Linked DNA regions of Homo sapiens. The protein of the gene in region 6 interacts with the protein of the main gene of each other region in a pairwise test. Each region holds a gene or a part of one and is shown on either strand. Other genes may lie near its edges. The genes, in order: TRIM37, ZNRF2, RNF166, TBC1D1, TRIM38, UBE2E2 and RNF10.

Region 1 (3,500 bases), on a different chromosome or scaffold from region 6:
CATCCAGCCCATAAACCAAGCACCAAAGAATAATACAGTTTTCAAAAATCTATTTTCTGCTCCTGTGCCTCAGCTGCTGAGCCCTGTAGAGAAAAATCACACAACCACACTGACTGATATCATTTTACTAACTTATGCGTGCCGCCTTCAGCTGGGCCCTCAGTGTGACTGGAATCCTTCACATATTCCACATCAGCTTCCTCACAGAGTAACGTTTCAAACCATCACTCCTCAATTCTACCTAATTTTACCATTATCAAGGTCATTAATTAACACTGTCACCTATCTGCACAGAAAAAAAATACCCACTATTAAGCAAAAACTTCCCCAACTTTTCAGCTGCCTTACCTGCAAACTCCACCCTTCCTTTAACTCAGTTTATCAAAGGTTAACTGCTTCACCTGACTGCTCCATTCCAAACCCTATTATCTCTAGTTTATCAAAGCACTTAATCTGTGCATTCTCTCGACCCACTGGGTCCTTCATTTTAACTTAAAACTGAAGTCTCTCATCTTAAAAATTACTACAAAAAAACCAACTGTCTATGCATCCCTTCTTATGTAAAAATATCAACTACTTCTTGAACTCTTATTCTGGATTCTGACTGTTGTTTAGCTGGGATAGAACCTGGCTAGCTACCGAATCCTAAATCAGTCTACCTACGTAAGTAATGATAAGGCATGTACTAGTTTCAGTGAATGAAAATAGAACACCTTTTTTTTTTCTTTTTCTTTGAGACAGAGTCTTGCTCTGTCTCCCAGGCTGGAGTGCAGTGGCACAATCTTGGCTCACTGCAACCTCCGCCTCCTAGGTTCAAGTGATTCTCCTACCTCAGCCTCCCAAGTAGCTGGGATTACAGGCAAGCACCACCACACCCAGCTAATTTTTGTATTTTTCGTAGAGACAGGGTTTGGCCATGTTGGCCAGGATAGTCTCGAACTCCTGACCTCATGTGATCCACCCACCTTGGCCTCCCAAAGTGCTGGGATTACAGGTGTGAGCCACCGCACCCGGCCAGAACACATTTTTAAAATCCACAATGTATGGTAGTTTAGGTTTTAAAATGTGTATCACGGTTTGTTTTATACAATGTATTGTTTTTTTCACAACCTTGAAATGCTTTGATTCAACAACTTCTGACTTATTAACATTTACATAAGGGCATACATACATTACTAATGGAAATCAATGGACAATATTTTTAGCCTACTGTTTTAGCACATAATATGTTAAAAGCCATGATGCTACTGTTTTTTTTTAATCAAACACAAAAATCTAAAACTGGCCTCATTATTACATGATAATCTTCATTCTGAATCTTCTCCTCATCTTCTTCATCCTCTTTGGCCTCTCTTACAGAAGCTGTAGTAGGACCACCTTCGAGAAGCATGTCAGAGCATGCAGACTTCTTAGCTCGTGTCTCCAGAGCATCATCATTTTGGGGGCTAAGATGGTTATCTGGTGGTGACAAATCTCTTGACTTCTGAGTTCGAGACAGCTCAATAGTAAGTCTCTTTTAAAACAAGAAAAGCACAAATATTAGCCACAGCTCACTGGCACAGTAAAAGATGTCTCAAGTGAAAAAAAAATGCATCCAGATGTTTCTAAAACCATTGCTTTATTTATTTTTTGAGAATGGTCTCACTCTGTTGCCCAGGCTGAAGTGCAGTGGTGCCATCATAGCTCACTGCAAGCCTTGAACTACTGGGCTCAAACGATCCTACTGCCTCAGCCTCTCAAGTGGCTGGGACTGGAGGTGTGTGCCACCATGCTTGGCTAATTTCATTTTTATTTATTTTTAGAGACGGTATCTTGCTATGTTGCTCAAGCTGGTTTTGAACCCCTGGGCTCAAATGTTCCTCTGGCCTCGGCCTCCCAACATGCTGGGATTACAGGAATGAGCCACCTCACTTGGCACCATTTCTTAAACCATTTCTCTGAATCCCTACTGCCTTTTATTTATAAAAAAAAATTGATGACAAAGATAAACTGCCCCATTTATGCTCATCCTCCTTCTTTCATATCCAGCCTAAGCTAAACATACAATTAGCAAACAGTATAGTGAATACAGGCAGTTTTAAATAGCACATTTAACATGAAAATCTCTGAAAGCATGTATTTATTCACATTTTCCTCCCTGACCTATTAACGACTCTCAGCACTCCAAACCTCCTGCCACACCCTAACTTCCTAAGGGAAATGAAACATTCCTTAGTTTACCACTGTAAAATAAAAATTCATCAATTAATCTTCCCCAGTGCTCATTCAACAATAGTAAGAGTTCAAGATGGGACAACTTTTAATTGTGCTATAGCCTAGAATCCTCTAAATCCAAGATAACTTGTGGAAGAGAAACTAAGTCACTGACAGAAACACAAACAGCTTACCTCAAACTACAGCCACACTGTTCAAAACAACTTTATGCAATGATGGAAATGCTCTAGATTTGCAGTAACCAATGCAAGCACTTGAAATGTGGCTACTGCAACTAAGGAACTAAATTTTTAATTTTAATTAAGCTAAATTTACAGACCAGGCACAGTGGCTCACACCTGTAATCCCAGCACTTTGGGAGGCCAAGGCAGGCAGACTGCTTGAGCCCAGGAGTTCAAGACCAGCTTGGGCAACATGGAGAAACCCATCTCCACAAAAACAAAAACTAGCCATGACACATGCTCGTAGTCCCAGCTACCTGGGAGGCTAAGGTGGGAAGATCACCCGAGCTTGGGAAGTTGAAGCTGCAGTTAGTGGAAATTGTGCCTGGCAACAAGAGTGAGTCCGACCTGTCTCCAAAATAAAAAAAAATAAAAATAAAGTGGCAGGGCGTGGTGGCTCATGCCTGTAATCCCAGCACTTTGGGAGGCCGAGGTGGGCAGATCACGAGGTCAGGACATCGAGACCATCCTGGCTAACACTGTGAAACCCTGTCTCTACTAAAAATACAAAAAAATTAGCCCGGTGTGGTGGCAGGCGCCTGTAGTCCCAGCTACTCAGGAGGCTGAGGCAGGAGAATGGCGTGAACCCAGGAGGCGGAGCTTGCAGTGAGCCGAGATTGCACCACTGCACTCCAGCCTGGGCAACAGAGCGAGACTCCTTCTCAAAAAAAATAAATAAATAAAGTAAAATAAAAATTTACATGGCCGTATGTGGCTAGTGTCTACTAAACTGGACACTGCAGAACTGGTAAGGATGGGGAACAAGATAACTAGATTTTTTTTCTAATTACAAATTACAAAATTACAAATAGCAATAAAATATATAAAATCTAATTACAAATATAACAAGCCAAAAGGACAATAGGAAACACCAAAACAGAAATAGATATTTTCTTACCTCTTTAAGGTTGTTTATTTGTTGGATATAACTAGTCTGTGCAGCTTCCAACTGAGTAATGTACCAATGCTGGTCCCGGGATTTTTGAAAGAAAGTTGGTGAACGTACCTGAAACCTTAAAAGAATTGTGCCACATTAAAAAAAAAATTCAAATAGTAAAACATTAT
Region 2 (3,593 bases), on a different chromosome or scaffold from region 6:
AGGTTTGGAATGCCTTCATTGTCACCTTATGTTTGAGACAAAACGAAACTGTGGCTAAAATTATAGAAGCATTTTAAGGGAAGTACTGAAACTGATGCTAACAAAATGAAATTTTTGTCTTAGTATTTTACATGCCAAAGTAATACATCTAAATCCTTCATCTATAGATAAAATTTGTCTTTTTAGTCTTTCTTAGTGCATTTTGGGCTGCTATAACAAAATACCTTAGATGAGTAATTTATACATGACAGAAATTTAGTGCTCACAGTTCTGGAAGCTGGGAAGTCTAAGATCAAGGTTCCAGCCAGTAGATCTGGTGTCTGATGAGGGCTCATTGCTCATTTATGGCACCTTCTGTGTGTCCTCACGTGGTGGGATAACAGACTCCCTCAAGCTTCTATAAGGATACTAACTGCATTCATGTGGTCAGAGCCCTCATCACCTAATCATGTCCCAAAGGCCCCACCTCTTAATACTATAGCACTGCAGATTAGGTTTTAACATAGCAATTTTGGGAGTACACAAACATTTAGACCATAGAGCTGATAAGCTTTTTTTTTTTTTTTTTTTTTTTTTGGTGAGGTGGAATTATATTGTATAAATTTTTTTTCTTTCATCAGCTAAATTTTTCCTTTAGTGTCACAGTGAGCTTATGGGATATGTGGAGCATACATCTCATCTCATAGCTGAAATGCATATGTCTGTTGGTCTTCAACAACATTTCCATTTTCTTATGTTACATATGAGTGTTATATTTGCTTATTTGTTTGTTTTCGAATATAGAACCTGAATTTGAAACTAGCCTACTACATGGGCAGGGTGAACTCTGTTAATCAGGTGTCTACAGAAATCTGAACCAATGGAGTCTGCTTCTGTGGGTCTTGAAGAGTCATTTTTAAGAGTTTATAGACATGGAATATCTTGACTTGTACATTTTTGCTTCTGTCCTGACTGTTCTTATTTATCAAGTGATAAATTCTTGTATACCTTTTAATAGTCCTAGATTAAAGGTATATGGGTTTGAGGAGGATTCAGTGTTGTTAAAACATTTTGTAAGGCACTGTGTAGCCATAAAGCTCAACGTTTCTGATATCCTTCAGCATAAGAATTTAATAATCAACCCAAAATAGAGAGACATGAATATTTGTGGTCTTGATTAGTTAGAAAATTGCTGTACTTATTTTGGGGTTTTTAGTTATTTGGGAGAAATATTTTAAATCTCCGTGTGTGTGCATTCTTTACTTGCGTGTAGTCCTTATTGTGAAAGGGGGATGACTTTGTTATGTATTTTTTGTGACTAAACTTTAATTGATCCTTCTGTTTCTTAATCTGTTCTTCTCCAGATCACTGATTTTATGAGTTTTCAGAATAGTAAGTAAGGGTATGAAGACTTACAGTAACTAAAGCAATGTTCATGGGGAAATCTATTTTTACACAGGTTTTCTTGTCTTGACAAGATGCTTGAAAAACCAAGAGGATATGAAAATCTGTCTCTGGAGAAACAAAGACGCAGGCATACTCAGCCAGAAATCTGAGTTTTGTGAGACTTGGTAATACAGAGATGGACAATCGTACTGGGGTAAAAAAACCCTGCTGAAGAGAGGACAGTGACCACAGAACTCAGTGTACCAAACATGCATACAAAGGACACACAGGGATTTTGAAAATGCTGCACATCCCTTAATAGTCATCTACATAGGTAATACTGATAAACATTTTGTATTCAGACGCCAAAGTTAACTGATTTAAAAGTTGATTTACTTTTTATTAAGTTCTCCAGAGCTGCACAACTAGTTATGTTTTGATTTGTTTTGTTTTTTAATTTGGGGTCTCTTTGTTTTCCCCAACATAATGTTCATAATGTTTCTGCATTCATCTGTTCTTAAATTGAAAAACATATAATTTACTTCTTATAAATTGAAGTCTTAAATGTGAAACCAAGAAATGTAATCAAGCAGTAAAAACATCTGAATGTAGACCATGATCTCAAGTTCTTCCATTTTCTCCCCCACGAGTGGAAAATAGACTTCTACATAGGAAAGCTAAAATATGTTAATATTTTTAAATTAAAGGTTTAATATCAGAATGCAGTCCAAAGAGCAAATCATATTACATAATTACATTTTAATTAAATATAGAATATTCTACTGAATTGCAATTTATTAAATATTCTTATCCTCTTAAATAAAACTGCTCAACAGTTAATCAGCAGTGAATCATCTTGCAGCTATGCAATTTAAAAAAAATACAGATTACCAATTTCAAGTGCTGCCAGCTAAAATAACTGTTTTAACGGGTATCTTTTGTTTGTTCTTTTCACTTAATTATTTTATTGTGCTTTGCATCTCCAGGCAGTTCTCTCACATTTGGGTAAAATGTTTAGCAGGCTGTAAACTTAAGAAAAGGGTAAAATAAAATTTTCTGGAGAGGAACTTGGAATTTGAGGGAGATTTTATATACCTTTAAAAACTGTAATTTAATTGGGATGCCAGGTTTATAGCAATTTGCAACTTTAATTTTCCAGATAATCTGGAGGTTAGCATTTGATAAATGATTTTTTAAAGTAGATATGAAGATTTTGTTAATTTATAATTTATTCATGTGTTATTACTGTAATTGAAAATGTTATAGACACTTTTAAATTCAGTTTGTGTAGAAAGAAATGTGTTAAACAAAATTATGTTAATAAATATTCCCACATAATACATCTGAATGGTTAAAAATACTGGAAGAGTTGTCAGGGCTACAATAGTGAATGTCCTTTTTTTTAATATCAAAAATATCGATAAGTAGGTTTTGTGTTTTCAACGTAGGGAAAATGTTATCAGTGAATAGGTGGTGTACTTTACTTGGTATAATTTAAAGTTGCACAGTAAGTACTGTTTCCTTATTTTAATCTTTCTTTACTCATAATGTATTTAAGAATTTGCTGTTTTATTTAACGCTGCTACTCTTAATCTTCTCTAAATTTTTCCCCCTACTTTCTTGCTTCTGTTTCACATTTTTTAAAAGGGCAAGTACAGGAGCAACTGCTGCTACCCAGAAAAATGTGTGTATTATAAATAATTAAAGAGTTTTTAATTGCTTTCTGTATGATTCCAGCTCAGATAACATTTTCCCTGAAGTTATGCTGTGAAATGCCTTTTGTTATGCTGCAATTGCTAAAGGAATCCAAAACCTCCATTGTGACAGCTGAAGGCACAGTTTAATAGGTGCTTTTTTACTAGTTATGAAAAATATTCGTCCCTTAAGGAAACGATTCTTTTTCTGTTTTTTTCTGTTACCATGAAGTCTTAATTTGATTTCATTTTATTTCACATTTTTGATTTTGTAAGCTTTCATACCCTCCTGCTCAACCCCCTCAAGTAAAACCTCTTAGAATGTGAATAATTGGTTCATTTTCTATTGCTGGTATACTCTTGTGATGAGAATTATTTTGTTGTCTTCCATTCTTAAAGGAAGAGATTTATTACAGCTGTGGGGATTAACTGTATTCTCCTGGAAGTTGATTTTCTGATAGGTTAATGCAAAAGTCATTGCAAAAACTGCTATTACTTTTGCGCCAATTTAATAGTTCACTTGTTTACTTTTTA
Region 3 (3,500 bases), on a different chromosome or scaffold from region 6:
CTGCCTGGGGAGGACACAGCCGACCTCCAACACAGACAGCAGCTGGCGATTCCACACCGTGGAGCACAAAAGCCAGTCGAGGCTGCTAGAGATGCTCTGAGACATTTTATTTAAACTTTTTTTTTTAAAAAAAAGACAGCAATAATTAATGCCAAGAACAGAAAAGAATGTTGACGTGTTGCCCGGCCCGCCAAGCGGGCCCCTGCCCAGGCCCCCAAGCTCTGCCACCACTGGGGTGCCGTCCCCTCCCGCAGCGGGGCACAGTCAGCTTTGAAGGTGACAGCGGGCCAAGGCCAGGACTCTGGGTGGAGGAGGCCCCTTCTCTGCCGGCCCCGCCTCTGCTGGGAGCAGCCACAGCCTGTGGCTGGGGTGCTGGGATTTCTTCCTGGTCATCAAAGAGAAACGTACAAACCTCAAGGACCCAGACACACAGTGGGTGGCCAGGGCAGACCCCACAGCAGACCCCATGGCTCGCCTGAGCTCTGGCAGCTGCCCCACTGCTCCTTCCATCCTTGCCCCAATCCCCCAATGCTTGTTTTGATTGTTTTCTTAAAAAATATAATTTTGTAAATGTTCCATAAAAATACTATTATTCCTAGTCAAACACAGATATTGCAATATGAAGAGTAACTGCTCTGTCTTTGCTCTATAAAACGTGAAAAGATTATCACACTGGATAATATAGAAAAGATGCCAGGGTTCCTAAGTATCACAAAAGCCAGTACCAAATGCGCAAGGTGGAAGTGGGGCCGGGGCAGGGTCGGGCTGGGCAGGGCAGCAGCCTGGGTTCCTCCCGGCTCGACTGCGGAGCGCGACTCGCGCGTCGGTCCCTTCTTCCCACGAGGGGGTATCATGGCTTTGAAGAGACGGCGGCAGCTCCAGGTCCCAGCGTCCAGCCCTGCCCAAGTAGGCCGCCTGCTCGGCCAGAAGCACCGAAGAACCCAGCGACGCCGGTGGGACCAGGCGGCCCTGCTCTGGCGGCCTCGGCGGCTGGCCCGTATTCAGGCCCGGAGGCTCGGCCCCGGCTCCCCTTCTGCGCGGGTGCAGGCTCCTCCTGTGAGCTCAGTCCGGTGAGGTGCGCTCCCGAGCAGGTGCCAGGTGCGACACAGGAGCGGGGACATCCCTGACCCCAGACGCAGGCGGGTGGCTGCGCTTCCCTTCAGTTCTCAGAGAGAGACAGGGCCAGAGCAGCCTGGAAGGCGGCCTCCTCGTCAATACTGTAGTCCTGGAGACAGGAAGGAGAGATGCACCGGGCTCGAGGGAGACAGGAAGGAGAGGTCCCCTCTGCCCATCACCCACACAGGCGTGTCCACCCTTCCTGCCTCCCTCCAGCAGGACACAGGAAGGACCCAGCTCCACTGTCCCCACAGGCTCGGGGCCTGCACGGTCCTCTGGGGGGTGAGAAGGTGAAGGTGTGTCCATCACCCGCTGGGTACGGGGGCACTCGGAATGGATGGCTGCTGGTTCAGGTCGGACTCTAAGCCCGGGGTTTCCGAGGTGAGCAGGCCGGCCAGGGCTCCCTGACCTCTAACAATTTCCATCCTGAGGCAGGCGGAGCGTGGGTCCCGGACGACTGGCAGAGGGAGTGACAGCCATCGCCAGGACTGTTAGCCAGGGCCAGGAATGAACAGGGCGGCGCAGGGAGGGGCCGCACCAGGAGTGAGGAGTTTGTGCGAGGGTCTGCAGGCCCGGGGGCCAGGTGTGTGCCTGACCCGCGGCGGGTGGGAAAAGGAGACAGGGCTGGAGTGTTCGATGTTGATGAAAGTCCTTCCCGCGCTCTCTAGAAAGCTTCCAGAAGGAAGCCTGGCTCACCCTCGAGGGGTTCTGTGGGGTGGGCAGGCAGGGACCTGCCCTGTGCGGTCCATGTCCCCGAGAGGCCTGGGCACCCTCTAGTGGCCACTCAAACTCAGCTGCCATCACTCCCCACCTGCAGGCAGCCCCCACAGAACCTGGGGGAATGTGGCCACCTGAAACGAGGCTTCTGTTTCTGGCTTCCTCTGAACCCTGCGGACCCTGAGGCTGGCGAGGGGCCCGAGCAGGAGGAGGGTGGATGAGGAGGGCGTGGGGGAGGACGGTGCTGGCGGGATGCCTACCACAAAGGTGTCGTAGGAGAACTTGTGTCGGTGAAGCAGGTGCTGCAGGAAGTTGGCGCTCTTGTAGCTGGGGTCCCCCCAGGGCATTGCCGAGCAGATGGGGCACACCTGGAACAGGCACTGGGGTCAAGCCGAGCCGGACCGCGGAGAGGCGGGGTAGCCGCAGTAGGACTGGGGGCCCTCCACTGAGCCCCGTCAGTGCTGCCTCAGCCTGGGAAGGCACCCCAGACCTGGAGGCGCGTGTCCCGGTGACAAGCGAGTTATTCAGTGCGCGTCACCCTGAAGGACTCATGGACACTCCCCGGTTTCCGCCAGGTGCTGCTCGGGCAGCCAAGTTCCCACCCTGGGTCCCAGGAGGCCTTTGTGGCCTGGGCACCCCCGGACTCGCCGCGAGCAGGCTCCTGGGCCTTGTACTGTCCCCCACAGGCCTCCCCTGGCGCAGGCGTCGCTTGGGGCAGGCACTGCTCACCACGCGGTTGGGGTCGCTGCGGTGGCTTTCCACACAGTGCTTCACCAGCTCCTGCTGGTCCAGGTTGCGGGCACCACAGTACGGGCAGGCGAAGGTGGACCTGTTGGGGATGTTGCTGGCGGGGCGGGGGTAGAGTGAGTGGCACGGCTAGGTGTCTAGGGGCTCTGCCTCCCCGCTTCTCTCAAACACAGGCGTGGCCCCAGGCCTGCCCTCTGTAGGCTGCAAGAGCGTGGCAGTGGCTGGGTGCCCCCCGTGCCTCTGCACGCCATGGCCTCCTGAGGACACACCCAGGACCCTCGTCCACCCCACACAACTAGGCCAGCCAAACGGCAGAGACTCTGCTGGCGCTGCCCTGGCAGGAGCCGTCTCTCGGCCCATCCACCTGCTGGGAGGCGATGTGTGGGCCCGGCCTGCGCCCTCCTCCTGCTCCCCACAGCTGAGCTGTCCCTACCCCAGGGGGCCTGGTGGGTATGCCAGGGAGGGCAGCACAGGAGCCTTCCTGCAGGGTGGCAAGGAAGGTCCACTTCCCCAGAGTGGACCCGGCCCCGGGTGACTCCCCCAGCCTCTCTGGGATGGGGCACTGCGCTTGCTCCCAGAACGAGGAAACCGCCGAGGACAGTTCCTCTCCCTTGCCCGGCAGCGTGCCTACCTGGGGATAGGCTGTGATGTGGGCACCACGGGGACGAACTTGGGGCAGTTGGCCATCTGCTCCTGGACCTTCAGGCAGGACGAAATGTGCACTCTCATCTTTGCCAGGGTCACCTAGGAGACAGGGCAGGGAGGGCAAGGCGGTCCTGAGAATCTGGAAGGGCCGTCCTGGGGAGGCCGAGACCTCAGGTGTCCAGGACCAGAGAACTGTAAGCAAGCGTCTGTGTTGCCAGCAGCAGGGGGACCCGGTCCCTTCTGCTGCTAAAACAATCTCAGGCACTGAGCAGCCA
Region 4 (3,500 bases), on a different chromosome or scaffold from region 6:
TGACTGTGACCTTGAACTCTTGGCCTCAAGCAACCTCCCACCTCAGTCTCCCAAAGCTCTGGGATTACAGGAGTGAGCCACTTCGCCCAGGAACAATAATATTTCTTTCTCTATTTTCTTTTTCAGGAACTGGCAGGAAAAAAAATTTTTAATTAAAGTATAAACAAAAGCAAAAAAAAACTGAACTTTAAAAAATACATTTCCCTTTAAAATGAACAATATCCTGCCCTGAATTTCAATGTCTTATTTCCTGTAGATAAATCGGAAAAGAGCTCACAAGGGGGAAAGAAAGCAGAATGGGCCATGCTAGAGAGGCAGACAGACAGGCATCTCCTCATCCCTCCCATTACGGATGTGTGACATCATCTATTATAAAGCTACATTCTTCATGGAGAAAGGAAAAGTACTGATACTAAGTCCTATCAACTCTGGCTTTTGAGAAACAGCAGACTTCACAAGAGAACTAGGACTCTCCAGACAGGAATGTTTCAATGATCACTGAAAACGCCAACAACAGAGGAGTGGGCAGGCAGTGGTGAGGCAGCACAGAAGTAATGTGCAGACAGGGTGTTAAACACAAGAAACTTACACAGCTACAACCCAACGATGTGTGTCTCTAAAAGCGTGTATTTATTAAGCAGTACCTTCTGACATGTCCCCTGCTTTTGGGATCACCACTACCCCGCTGAATTCCAAAGAACCAAGAACTCTTTCCAATGGCTGACAGAAAACAAAGCTGGGAGGCTCTGCTCCATCATCCAGGACTGTTAATGCTCACACTTCTTTACTCAGAACATTCCAAACACTTCTGTACTAACTCACACTCTCAATGATCCGTGTATGAACTACACGAACACATAGGTCCTGGGACTTCTGCGGCTGCTGGTCAGAAGAAGGCAGCGACTGTACACAGGTGTGACCTTGATTCATATTAGGTGAGAGATTTTTAAAATTGTTTAAAGTTGTTTTTAAAGATAACTGTGTCCATTTATAGTCTCTGGCACACAGAGTTAAATGAATCACTAAGGGACACTTGGAAGGAATGGGGGGAACTTCTGATTACTCTTCTCCATAACCAGACGATTCTAACTGGTCACAGGAACCCAACTATTACAATGAATAAATCTTGTTAGAAGAATCTAGAATTCTTACAGTGAGAGATTTTAGAAAACATCTACTCCAATTTTGTTATTCAGAGAATTTAGCAAATTCGTCCAGGTCACAATTAGTTCACGGCAGAGCTAGGACCAGAAGCTGAAGCACCCCTGTCACCCTATGAGGCCAGCATACCTCTCTTGCTCTGCCTGTAAGGATCAGCGCCTCTCCCTCCCATTATAACCCTGCTCCAGGGCTTCAGATGGGGAGACTCATCCGCTTGCCCTCTTCCTCACAGCAGCAAAGTTCCACAGTCAACAACGTCTCTTACTTTGTTTGAGGAGTAATGACTATGCATGTTAGGTACCATTTTTGCTCACTTTCACTTGCTTCCTGACAATACAAGTACCCATTGCTTGTATACTCACAAGCAGCTCGAACGAACATGTCACTGCTTCCAGTTTTATCTCCAAACCAAGAGTAAAGCCTGACTCATTTCTCTCACTCAATAAACATACCTGGGATGCACATACCTGGCTAGTCACAGATATGCCCCAGCTATTTATGCAACAAATTTAAACAAATCTTACTTTCGTTCATGAGGCGTCTCTGTGCTCACTGAGTGATACCTCATAAGTTTCCTTTGCGAAACCCCCGGGGACCCCCGGGCAGGTTGTGGAGGTTCCTGGCATTCGATGGGGAAGTGACTCAGGGTGTTTGCTCGCCTCCTGAAGGCCTGCTGGGGCGACAGCGGAGCTGGCTCTTCTGGGAGATGACTCTCCGAGTCACTGGACAGGTCCTCCGAGGAGCCGAGGAGCTTAAAGGAGCTCTCAGAGATGGGCAAGGCCTCCTTTTCACACACAGATGGCTCCTGGGAGCAAACACACAGCAGATCAGACACACCATGGGGAATATGTGGGATTTATAAATCTCTAGTTCCTGCACGGGCAAACATTGCAGTATCTAAGTATGTGTTCTGATTATAATGCCATCTAGAAGCCACCACCAAAAGCAGAAGAAAATGAAGGTCCATTAAATAAATGCCCGCTCCTCAAGGACACACTGCTGGCTTGCTGGAGAAATGGGGAGACTGGCCAAGTGCAGGAGTGAAGGACATAAGCCACAATCTGTAACGTTCTGAACAACGCCATGAATAGTGCCCTCTCTCTAGAAAACAGGACTGTTTACTGCAGCTTCTAAGGGGTGTGAGTGCTGGAGAACTTGTCTCCACTGCTTAACCAAGTTCTTTATCTTTGCCACATGTGTTCACTCATGTTAAACCCACATTTTAAGGCTCTCTCCGAATCTGATCTACTGTTGAGATTCGACTTCATAATTTGAGATTAAGAACTGTATCAATATTCTTAGAATATGGAAAATCACTCTGTAGGCACTTACTGCTGCAATTCAGGGCAAATAATTTCTTTCTGCACCTCAATTTCTTCTGTAAGAGGGTAAAGTAAAAATGTATCTGAGTTTCAAGAACAAAGCAAGATGATACAACCAAAAGTACTTTTTATGTTGTAAAATGTTACACAAACATAAGTTATTGTTTTATTAGGTATGCAATAAATCTATGGAGTGAGTGCTCAAACATTTGTTGAGAATCATGACAATATTTTAAAGTTGTATGCCTTCACGATGCACGCTTTTTCAAAGGAATGAACTACTACCACTCAAGCAAACTGATGTTTAACACTGCACCCAGGACGTGGCTAGTGGCCAATATATTTTTAATATATTCAAAATATTCAAAAAGAGGAATTGTAGCAGCTTGCTCCTATTGAAATTGTTGGAAGAGAAAAAATAAATCAACAGGAATAGAGTAAACAAGAATGAATGCATCTAACAGTGGACTGGAGACTGAATTCTACCTGTTCATTTACACAGTTGAGTGCCTTTTAGGTAACAAGTATTGAGGGTTTTAATTTGAAAAAAAAAAAAAAAGAAATGTGTTTACCAAAGGGAGAAGTTACATACATTTAATTGTATAAGAATTAGGAAAAAATTCCCAACATACTATGAAATATTGATTACTTTCATAACTGAAGTTTTTCATTCTTCAGGACTCAACAGTTGTGAAGATTCTTTTAAGGATTTAAAAGTCTCTCTAAGACAATACATCACAGAACACAATCTCCATCATGCAAACCTGTTGATCTAAATTCTTACTAATATCCCTCCAAATCATATCAAAGAGCTAACCCTTAGCTTAATTGGACAACTGAAAGGGCCATTTTCATTTGTCAAGTTTCAGGGCTATTTGGTTTCTTTGCAACTCCTAGGTGATCAATTTTTTAGAAGGGATCCAATTACATAAAATAGAATATAGTAGTTTCTCAATTCAAGATGAATAAAAGAAAGATGTAAAGTACACTTAAACATATACAATACATACAAGCAGC
Region 5 (3,500 bases), on a different chromosome or scaffold from region 6:
CCAAGACACAGGGGAAGGCAGTAAATCTCCTGGAAGATGTGTCCTGATTCTCCTGGGTGTATCCACGAGTCACTTGTCTCCGATCCTCAGAGAGAATTAGTTCGTGATGAGCTGTATCTGGATCCAGAGTCACACTAACTGCAAAACAAAACAAAACAAACAAAAATAATTTTGTTGCTGTGAAGAACACAGGTTATTTTATTTTATTTTATTTTGAGATGGAGTGTTGCTGTCACCCAGGCTGGAGTGCACTGGCACTATCTCAACTCACTGCAACCTCCACCTCCTGGATTCAGGCAATTCTCCTGCCTCAGCCTCCGGAGTAACTGCGACTACAGGTGCGCACCACCACAAGTGGCTAATTTTTTTAAATTTTCTGTAGAGATGGGGTTTCGCCATGTTGGCCAGGCTGGTCTCAAACTCCTGACCTGAAGTGTTCCACCCACCTCGGCCTCCCAAAGTGCTGGATTACACAGGTGTGAGCCACCATGCCCAGCCACAAGTTATTTTCAATAAAACCAGCCTGTGTTCAAACCCAACTATTGTTTCTTATAAACTGGGTGAGCTTAGGCAAATCATTTAACTTTCTGAGCCTCAGTTTGTTAACTATAAAGTGGAAATTACCGTATTTGTTGCAGAGAATGGTGGGTAGGATTGAATAAGCTTATGTTTGCTTAATGCTTGGTAAAATTCCTGGTACATGGTAACCACCTAATAAGTGGTAGTTGTTGGGGTGATCAGGCCCAACACCAGGCCGTGGGGGCTACAAAGTCCGGCGGGGTCAAAGGAATGAGAAAAGACAAGTTAAGAGTGCATAAAGTGGGTCCAGGGTGCCAGCACTAGATTGGAGGCTGCAAAGGCCCTAAGCTCTGGGAGCCCACACTATTTATTGGTGATCAAACAAAGAAGCAGGTGGTGAGGACGTGAGGGTAAACAGGTGAGGGCATGAGGACATGGGGGTAGAAAGGTAGTGGTGCATTAAGCGTAGCTGTGACAGTTTAGCATTTTCTTTGACACATGTAGAATATACTCTGCTGCTTGAGATAGTAGAGGACACGTTTATGAGTGAAAAGCAAGGAACCAACAAGTCTGTGCACTTTCCAGAGGCTATGAGGGGTTTTATGCCCTGAGCCCTGGGTTCCATCCAAGCCACAAGGGGTTTTATGCCCTAGGCTTAGATTTGTGGTGCGGCAGGGCAGCCTTCCACCATTTGGCACAGAGCTTGGTGTTCCAAAGGCCACGAGGGGTTTTGGACCCTGGACCCCGGACATCTTCCAAGACTCTTTTACATTATGACAGACAAGCCAGTCCTGCTTCAGCTCTTCTAACAACATGTAGTAATAATGATATCATCAACATCATCTTCGTCTTAATTATTCAAGGATGCCAAGGTACAGAACTAACCTGTTAATATGGTTACCATCCTGTCCAAAGTTCTTCTCCCATGCAGGACTTCCAGGAATCATGAGACAGTTGAGCAGAAAGATACCTTTTCCCTTCTCTACTGAATAACCACCAACATTGAGAATCAGAGAGGGAAAATGACTCAGCTAATGTCTTAGCTTGTTATTGGAAGACCCAGGTCTCATGACACATGCCTAGTCCCATGACTTTTAATTGTAAGCTCTTCTCTTTCCCCTCAGATAATGTTCCATAAGCATTAGTATGAGATAATAATACACTGAGGACCAATATACATGAAAAATATCAGACTAGAATCAAACAAGACAGAAAAAAGATCTGATAACCTAAAGTGAGATACTGAACAGTATGCAGTTTTAAAAATAAAAAATGGTAATAGGATGTTCTAACAAGAGAGTTAAGAAACCACTGTGCTACTGAGTTAAATGTTGATCAGTTGGTCTGTGACAATTAAGGAATTCAAGTATTCAGAAACACTTCCTGTGCTGGATGCTCTCTGTTTGTTCTTCCAAATAATCCCTCACTTTTCCCTGTCTTGCTCTGTGCCCAGGAAGGCTGACATGGACAGATTAACCAGGCTTTCCGCCCTCTGGCTTGGTTCAGCCAATGGGAAGCACCAGAGGAGACCATAGGGCACAAAGAAGCAGCCTTGGGAGTATTCAGTACCCCAGTCCCACGCTATGATTTGGAGGGTCTGCATTCCTCTGCCTCTGGGCACACTCTAGTATAGTTACAGCTCCCTACACCTGCCACTTGAGGCCCAGAGGAGGTGATGGCTCTCTAACTGTTCCTAGTTCTGGGTGCTTCCTGTTCCTTGTGGATTTCCCAACTCCTCACCTTTGTAAATACCCTCCTTTTTCAAACTCTATTCAGTTAGCTTTTATCAGCCTGACTCACAGAAGTTTGGGGTTTCAATTCATATTACCTGAATGACCCAGGAAAACCCATGTTGAGAAATTAAAATGTTTACGGGGTGGTAATACCACTTAAGAGAAAAAATATCAATTGGATTTTTAAAATTCCACCTATCTATTGGTGTGACACATCAACAAAAACATATAGAAAGATTGGAAGCTAAAAGATAGATAATATAGTCATATACTGTTATAGTATTATATCAAAAGATATTAAGTCAGAGCATTATTAAGAATGGAAGAAGGGCCAGGTGTGGTGGCTCATGCCTGTAATCCCAGCACTTTGGGAGGCCAAGGCAGGCGGATCACTTGAAGCCAGGAGTTCAAGACCAGCCTGCCCAACATGGCAAAACCCTGGCTCTACCAAAAATACAACAATTAGCTGGGCATTGTGGCACATGCCTGTAATCCCAGCTACTTGGGAGGCTGAAGCACAAGAATCACTTGAACCGGGGAGGCAGAGGTTGCAGTGAGCTGAGATTTCGCCACTACACTACAGCCTGGGTGACAGAGAGAGATTCTGTCTCAAAAAAAAAAAAAAAGAAAGAATGAAAGGAGTCACCTAAAAAAGATAACACAATTTTAAACATAAATGTACTACATTATTAGTGAATTCATGTTTAGAATTGTGTTAATATACAAAGCAAAAATTGTAGAATTATAGGAGAAATGGACAAATCTACAATCATCATGGGATGTTTTAACATTCTTCTTTCCATAATTGATAGATCAGGCAGACCAAAAGAAAGAAATAAGGGAAGATACGGAAGGTCTGAACAATCTAAGAAGCGCAATCTCATAGTCAATACATAAAGCTCAGCAATTGTTTAATAATAGTAAGCAGAGAATATGCAGTTTTCTCAGGTATAGATGGAACATGCACTAACTGAGTAAATACTAGGCAGAAAACAGTCTGAACAAGTTTCAATAAATCTGTATTACACAGATCATTTTCTCTAGCCTCAATATAAGATTATAAACCAATAATAAAAAGATGACTAAAAAGATTCTAAATATTAGGAAATGTAAACTACTAATAAGTCATTAGAAGATGTATAGAATGGAACAATAATAAAAAGTTATTTATAAAAATATACAATGAAGCTAAAGCAGAATTTTAAGGAAAATTTGTAGGCTTTAAATGCTTATCTTAGAAAAATTAAA
Region 6 (3,500 bases):
GAATTTAGAGTGAAATAAAAATGAAAAAAAGCAAGAAATATGTTACGACTTTTAGAGCTAGATGTGAAACATACTGATATAAAATTTCAGTGTTCTATTAAGTGACTTTAGTGCTCATAAAAGATGTCACAGCTGTGGAGACTGGTGCTCTTCATTTACAGAATAGGTAGAAAAGTAGTCAGCTTTTCCGTTAGTATGTTTCAGAGCTGTTGGGGCAGATCTGTTTCTGTTTGGCATGGGGAGCTGTTGGGGTTGAAGGGGTGCTGGTGGTGGTGTGTGTGGTGTGTCAGTGAAAGGATTCACTATTTTCTGTTGACTCTTTGTGGCTCTGTGCTTCCTGATGCTTCCATTCTTTTGCAGTGCTTTTTGGTTTGTCTTACAAAAATTTCAGTCCATTAAAGATCGGTGTTACAACATTGCTTTGGCTTAGAGCAAGCTACAAGTTAAATCTTTAGTGATGATGAATTTTCATCAGTGTCAAATAGCTATCCATTTGGACTAAGTTATAGTAATTAAAAAATTTTGCTTTATTTGAGGTATCTTTACCTGTTCTTATTCTTGATCATATCAGAAACAGTTTTATTTCAAGTTGTAATTTGATTAAGAGTAATCAAAAGGATCCATTTCAAAAGGAATTTGTTCAGTGTACCTATAATTTTTAAAGATATATTTTTTGCTGTTAATGGTACTTATTAAGTATAGGTATTTTGTTTTTAAAAAGGTGTCTGAGAAGATAGCTATACAGTGCTGAAAGTGATTATTAGGTGACAAAACCATGGGGAGCACAAGGCCTTTTAGAGTCTGGGCATGAGTTTTGTTGGTTCAGTTCTGGATTTGTCAGAACACTTTAAGCTAGTCAGCTCATAAGGGATGTATTCATAGTCATCAAACTCAGAAATTGATTATGATAGAATGACAGTTGAGGAGAGATACTCCTTTTCACTTACTGGAATTGTTTGTGTCTGCTGTCTAGATTATAACAGCTACCTAAATATCAAGGTATTGAGGAAATTGAGTTGGTAATCAGAACTGCTTGGGGGGCCTGAACTCAGAGCAAAGGGAATTTGAAAGCCTTGAGGGATATTTTAGCCAGAATGTGGGGAAAAAAAAAAAAATCTTCAGTGTCTTCATCTCTTGTGAAATATGGTTGCTTTAGTATATAGCTGAATGCTGTCATATGGTTCAATTTTTATTTAGAATCATGCAGTCATGCAGGCCTCTGTGTTCTTCTGTTATCACAAAGGTTACTTAAAACCACTTACTAGTTTGGAGAATTTTAACCTTAGCCCAGCCCTGAGGATGTATTGATTGAATAGGGATTTGAAAGTGTCGTCCCATTTTTGTGTTCCCACAAGTATTTGTACTAACCTTCGTTTTTGTACTTAGCAAGTTGGCTAGTCGAGGTTTTTCACAGTTGTGGGACCAAAGGGCTTAGCACAGCGCCTGGTAGAGAGTAGACCCTTAATCATTTTTGTCTTATTTTCTGTAACAGCATTATTGATATATAATTCACATACTATAAAATTTACCCTTTAAAAATGTACAACTCTGTAGTTCTTAGAATATTTATTATTAGAATTGTGCAAGATTATAATTATCTAATTTAAGAACATTTTTATCACCGCACAGGGAAGCATCATACCCATTAGCCGTCACTCTTCACTACTCTCCCCTCACTCCCTGGCAACCACTTACCCATTTTATTTTTTTATTAATTTTTTTTTTGAGACAGGGTCTTGCTCTGTCACTCAGGCTGGAATGCAGTGGTATCAATCATATTTTTATTTTTTGTAGAGATCGAGTCCCACTACGTTGCCCAGGCTGGTGCTCCCTGAGCTTCCCAAAACATTGGGGATTACAGGCGTGAGGTTCACTACTGAATTTTATGTTTATGGATTTGCCTGTTCAGGACATTTCATATAAATAGTCAAACAGTTTGTGGTCCTTTGTGGCTGGCTTCTTTCACTTACCAGAATGTTTCAAGGTTCATCCATTTTGTAGCATGTAGACACAGTACTTCATTCTTTTTTATGGCTAACAGTACATTATGTGAATATACTACTATATTTTGTTCATCCATTCATTTGTTAGTGGATATTTGAGTTGTTTCCAGTTTTGATTATTATGAATAATGTTGCTATGAACATTTCATGTATAAATTTTGTATGTTTTCATTTTAGAATACATTTTGAATGGATGAAGGAAAAGTTTTAGCAACTCCCAAAGCTGCATTGTTTTGTAAATGACCAATTTAATCCATTTTATATTGAGATTTACTTGTTTTACTTTGAGGCTCATTCTCTGTGTTCTGGAGGTAGCTTACTGTAGTACAGCTAAATAAATGATTTTTGATTCTTTAATCCAGGATCTAAAATGTCCACTGAGGCACAAAGAGTTGATGACAGTCCAAGCACTAGTGGAGGAAGTTCCGATGGAGATCAACGTGAAAGTGTTCAGCAAGAACCAGAAAGAGAACAAGTTCAGCCCAAGAAAAAGGAGGGAAAAATATCCAGCAAAACCGCTGCTAAATTGTCAACTAGTGCTAAAAGGTACTTCAGTTATTATAACCTTTTTATTGTTGGTATCAATTTATCATCTTAAGTTCTATTTTTCTCTTGCATTTAATCATTTTTTCTGGGATGTCGGCCGTGAACTTCATGGATTTTTCTTTTCCCTTCAAGATGATCTCGTTTACATGGTTTTAACCATAGGGAACTTCAGTATTTAAAGTCAGTTAAATGGCAAGGCAAATTCATAACATACATTTCCATAGTGTGTTTGTGTGTTTATGTATTATCAGGGAAACATATACAGGGTGTGTATGTAAAATTGCAGTAGTTTCATTTATGGTTACTTGACCATAAATATTTTTTTTCTGTTCAGTAACACAGAATAGAGATTAGGAATCTTTGAAGTAGTTACTGAGTGAGTGACAGTTTATTTTCCACTACTCCCAGTTGGTAAAGTCAGAAATGCTGACATTAGCAACAGGTGCATCTTGGTTTCATTACATTAGTCAGTGGATCCATCTTGATACGGATTTTCTCTTTCTCTAGAGAATAGATGGATCTGGAAAGTAGGTATTTGAATGATTTTCTGTTGGTACTCAATCTCTTAAAATGATTGGCATGTCACTGGACTTAAAGGGAATCTGTTTGATATTGTTACATTATAGAATATCTCTTGGAAAATAATTTGAAAGATAAATTAAATGTAGTGTCTTTCCTGATCCTGTGATTTTATGTTCTTGCTTTGTTTTCATATATTTTACATTGACCAAGTCGGAAGTATACATAAAAGCGATCTGTAACTTGTAGGCATAGTGGAATGCCTGAATGTTGTATTACAGCTTTATATGTTATTTTATGGTGTGGGTTAAGGGGAACTCCTTTCTCAAAGATAAAAAACCATTATTTTGTTCTAGTAGACCTTGTTTTCCTTTGGCTTAGTCAGTCTACAGGGTTGGAAAGAACCTTCTCAGGACCCTTGGTGAGAGATGT
Region 7 (3,500 bases), on a different chromosome or scaffold from region 6:
TAGAGTTGGGGTCTCACTTTGTTACCCTGATTGGTTTCCAACTCCTGGACTCAAGCAATCCTGCCTCGGCCTTCCAAACTGTTAGGATTAAAGGCATGAACCACCATGCCTGGTTTATCTTTTTTTTGTTTTTAACAGTCTCACTCTATTGCCCAGGCTGGAGTGCAGTGGCGCAATCTCGGCTCACTGCAACCTCTACCTCCCGGGTTCCAGCAATTCTCCTGCCTTGGCCTCCCAAGTAGCTAGGATTACAGGCATGAGCCACCACGCCTGGCTAATTCTGTATTTTTAGTAGAGATGGAGTTTCGCCACATTGGCCAGGCTGGTCTCGACCTCCTGACCTCAAGTGATCCACTCACCTCGGCCTCCCAAAGTACTGGGATTACAGGCATGAGCCACCATGCCCAGCATGTTTTATTCCCCCAGGGTGGAAAGCAGTGGTGCCATCATAGCACACTGCAGCCTCAACCTCAGCTTAGCATCTTTCCAACTCAGCCTCCCAGCTAGGACTGCAGGTGTGCACCACCACACCCAGCTAATTTTTAAATTTATTTTGAGACAGGATCTTACTTTTGTCACCCAGGCTGGAGTGCAGTGGCATGATCTCGGCTTACTGCAGCCTCCAACTCCTGGGTTCAAGCAATCCTCCTGCCTCAGCCCCCCAAGTAGCTGGGACTCCAGGCATATACACCATTCTTGGCTTAATTTATATTTTTGATATAGACGGGGTTTTGCCATGTTGCCCAGATGGGTCTCAAACTCCTGAGCTCAAGCGATCCACCAGCCTCAGCCTCCCAAAGTGCTGGGATTACAGGCGTGAGCCATCAGGCCCGACCTAATTTTTAAATTTTTTTGTGCAGACGGGGGTCTCACTATGTTGCCCAGGCTGGTCTCAAACTCCTGGGCTCAGGCGATCCTCCAGGCTCAGGTGATCTTCCCACCTCAGCCTCCCAAAGTGCTGGGATTATAAGCATGAGCCATGGGGTCTGGCCCCACTTTTATCTTATTACAATGATTCTCAATCTTGCCAGTTCATAGGAATCACACAGATGAGCTTTTACGGAATTCCTATGCTCAGGCCTCACCCTCTAAGATTCTGATATAACTATACTAAAGTACCTGTCTGCAGACCTGTAATATTATCTGAGTAATTTTTTTTAAACTTAGAAAAAATTATTTCTTGGTAAGTACAATCACCAGCTTTTTATAGCAGGCTAAATAAATTCAAGGTTAAACAATGCCTCAGAAAGAAGAAAATGTAAGTTAATAAATCAGAGACCAAATTTTGAAAGCAACCACTTCACGCCCATAGTCTGTCAACCTCACTGTATAAATGAGATGTCATTCTCTCCAAACCTGACCACCTAAAACCTGGGAGTCAATCTAAACCATGTGAAATGGCAGCAATGTAAACAGAACAGTCACAGAAACAGGCTAGGTTCACTCCTACCAGTTACCCTTAAATCCTGCTTACGGACAGTGACCCTTACCTTAGTTACAATTTAAGGCCAGGCATGGTGGCTCCCTGTAATCCCAGCACTTTGGGAGGCCAAGGCAGGCAGATCACATGAGGCCAGAAGTTCGAGACCAGCCTGGCCAACATGGTGAAGCCCCATCTTTACTAGAAATACAAACATTAGCCAGGTGTGGTGCCACACGCCTGTAATCCCAGCTACTTGGGAGGCTAAGGCATGAGAATCATTTGAACCCGGGAGGCAGAGGTTGCAGTGAGCTGAAATCACGCCACTGCACTCCAGCCTGGGCAGCAGAGTGAGACTCTGTCTCAAAAAACAAATAAATAAAGTTAGAACTTAAAAACTAAACTTTTACCTATTACTTCAGTTAGCAACAGTTAGTGTCAAACATGGCACTAGTAGTAACAATTAGAAAGCAAAGTTTCAGCGCTGGACTTGGTGGCTCATGCCGGTTGTCTCAACACTTTGGGAAGCCAAAGCAAGAGGATCACTTGAGTCCACGAGTTTGCGACCAGCCTGGGCAACATAGCAAGACCCCATCTCTACAAAAAATTTAAAAATTAGCCCAATGTGGTGGCACACACCTGCAGTCCTAGCTGAGAGGCTGAGTTGGAAGGATTGCTTAAGCCAAGGTTGAGGCTGCGGTGTGCTATGATGGCACCACTGCTCTCCACCCTGGGCTACAGAGTGAGCCTCTGTCTCAAAAAAAGAAAAAGGCCAGGCACGGTGGCTCACGCCTGTAATCCCAGCACTTTGGGATGCTGAGGCGGGTGGATCACGAGGTCAGGAGATCAAGACCATCCTGGCTAACATGGTGAAACCCTGTCTCTACTAAAAATACAAAAAATTAACCAGGCGTGGTGGCGGGAGCCTGTAGTCCCAGCTACTCAGGAGGCTGAGGCAGGAGAACGGTGTGAACCTGGGAGGCGGGGCTTGCAGTGAGCCAAGATTGCACCACTGCACTCCAGCCTGGGAGACACAGTGAGACTCCATCTCAAAAAAAAAAAGAAAAAGATAAACCAGGCACAGTGGTTCAAGAGTTCAAGGATCTCTTAAGCCAAGGAGTTCAAGGTTTCAGTCAGTTATGTTTGCACCACTGCATGCCAGCCTAAGTGACAGAGCGAGAGCTTGTCTCTAAAAAAAAAAAAGCCAGGCACGATGGCTCATGCTTGTAATCCCAGCACTTTGGGAGGCCAAGGCAGGTGGATCACGAAGTCAGGAGATAGAGACCATCCTGGCTAACATGGTGAAACCCCATCTCTACTAAAAATACAAAAAATTAGCCAGGCTTGGTGGCGGGCGCCTGTAGTCCCAGCTGCTCGGGAGGCTGAGGCAGGAGAATGGCGTGAACCCGGGAGGCGGGGCTAGCAGTGAGCGGAGATCGTGCCACTGCATTCCAGTCTGGGCGACAGAGTGAGACTCCGTCTCAAAAAAAAAAAAAAAGGAAAACTCAGGGGATGCAGAACCCCAGCTAACTCAGCCACATTCTCTTGCTTTGCTTTCCTTAACTCCATTTCACATCACCTCAAGCAAAGGAGATTCTACGAGGATAGGTATATAAAGAAAACACATATCCTCCAACCTCATTATCCAAGACTGTTTCAGATGATCCTGGACCCTACCTGTTTGACCCTAACTGCTGCTTTCAAGATGCACCTCACGGTTTGCATAGATTTAGGTAAAGCCAGATTCTACATGGCAAGGGCTTATTAAGAAAGTAAAATGGCCAGACACGGTGGCTCATGCCTATAATCCCAATGCTTTGGGAGGCCGAGGCGGGCGGATCACCTGAGGTCGGGAGTTCGAGACCAGCCTGACCAACATGGAGAAACCCCGTCTCTACTAAAAATACAAAAAATTAGCTGGGCATGGTGGCGCATGCCTGTAATCCCAGCTACTCCGGGGGCTGAGGCAGGAGAATAGCTTGAACCCGGGAGGTGGAGGTTGCGGCAAGGCCGAGACTGCACCACTACACTCCAGCCTGGGCAACAAGAGCAAAACTCTGTCTCAAAAAAAAAAAAAAAA

Evidence for each region.
Region 1: the proteins of UBE2E2 (region 6) and TRIM37 interact in a two-hybrid assay, tested with the Homo sapiens proteins (one study listed by BioGRID).
Region 2: the proteins of UBE2E2 (region 6) and ZNRF2 interact in a two-hybrid assay, tested with the Homo sapiens proteins (one study listed by BioGRID).
Region 3: the proteins of UBE2E2 (region 6) and RNF166 interact in a two-hybrid assay, tested with the Homo sapiens proteins (one large-scale study listed by BioGRID and IntAct).
Region 4: the proteins of UBE2E2 (region 6) and TBC1D1 interact in a two-hybrid assay, tested with the Homo sapiens proteins (one large-scale study listed by IntAct).
Region 5: the proteins of UBE2E2 (region 6) and TRIM38 interact in a two-hybrid assay, tested with the Homo sapiens proteins (one study listed by BioGRID).
Region 7: the proteins of UBE2E2 (region 6) and RNF10 interact in a two-hybrid assay, tested with the Homo sapiens proteins (one large-scale study listed by BioGRID and IntAct).

What each region holds. Positions count from the first base shown.
Region 1 is NC_000017.11:59,047,881-59,051,380, forward strand, and holds part of TRIM37 (E3 ubiquitin-protein ligase TRIM37), read right to left. Parts: intron 3,449-3,500; coding exon 3,334-3,448; intron 1,514-3,333; coding exon 1,298-1,513; intron 1-1,297. UniProt on the Homo sapiens protein: E3 ubiquitin-protein ligase required to prevent centriole reduplication. Probably acts by ubiquitinating positive regulators of centriole reduplication.
Region 2 is NC_000007.14:30,364,597-30,368,189, forward strand, and holds the end of ZNRF2 (E3 ubiquitin-protein ligase ZNRF2), read left to right. Parts: intron 1-1,343; exon of another isoform or gene 1,344-1,408; intron 1,409-1,438; 3' UTR 1,439-3,093; downstream 3,094-3,593. UniProt on the Homo sapiens protein: E3 ubiquitin-protein ligase that plays a role in the establishment and maintenance of neuronal transmission and plasticity. Ubiquitinates the Na(+)/K(+) ATPase alpha-1 subunit/ATP1A1 and thereby influences its endocytosis and/or degradation.
Region 3 is NC_000016.10:88,696,409-88,699,908, forward strand, and holds the end of RNF166 (E3 ubiquitin-protein ligase RNF166), read right to left. Parts: exon of another isoform or gene 3,326-3,500; intron 3,325-3,325; coding exon 3,212-3,324; intron 2,678-3,211; coding exon 2,563-2,677; intron 2,202-2,562; coding exon 2,094-2,201; intron 1,708-2,093; coding exon of another isoform or gene 1,526-1,707; intron 1,226-1,525; coding exon 1,160-1,225; 3' UTR 93-1,159; downstream 1-92. UniProt on the Homo sapiens protein: E3 ubiquitin-protein ligase that promotes the ubiquitination of different substrates. In turn, participates in different biological processes including interferon production or autophagy.
Region 4 is NC_000004.12:38,048,084-38,051,583, reverse strand, and holds part of TBC1D1 (TBC1 domain family member 1), read right to left. Parts: intron 1,967-3,500; coding exon 1,686-1,966; intron 1-1,685. UniProt on the Homo sapiens protein: May act as a GTPase-activating protein for Rab family protein(s). May play a role in the cell cycle and differentiation of various tissues.
Region 5 is NC_000006.12:25,979,802-25,983,301, reverse strand, and holds part of TRIM38 (E3 ubiquitin-protein ligase TRIM38), read right to left. Parts: intron 139-3,500; coding exon 1-138. UniProt on the Homo sapiens protein: E3 ubiquitin-protein and E3 SUMO-protein ligase that acts as a regulator of innate immunity. Acts as a negative regulator of type I interferon IFN-beta production by catalyzing 'Lys-48'-linked polyubiquitination of AZI2/NAP1, leading to its degradation.
Region 6 is NC_000003.12:23,206,327-23,209,826, forward strand, and holds part of UBE2E2 (ubiquitin-conjugating enzyme E2 E2), read left to right. Parts: intron 1-2,365; 5' UTR 2,366-2,373; coding exon 2,374-2,549; intron 2,550-3,500.
Region 7 is NC_000012.12:120,540,856-120,544,355, reverse strand, and holds part of RNF10 (E3 ubiquitin-protein ligase RNF10), read right to left. Parts: intron 1-3,500. UniProt on the Homo sapiens protein: E3 ubiquitin-protein ligase that catalyzes monoubiquitination of 40S ribosomal proteins RPS2/us5 and RPS3/us3 in response to ribosome stalling.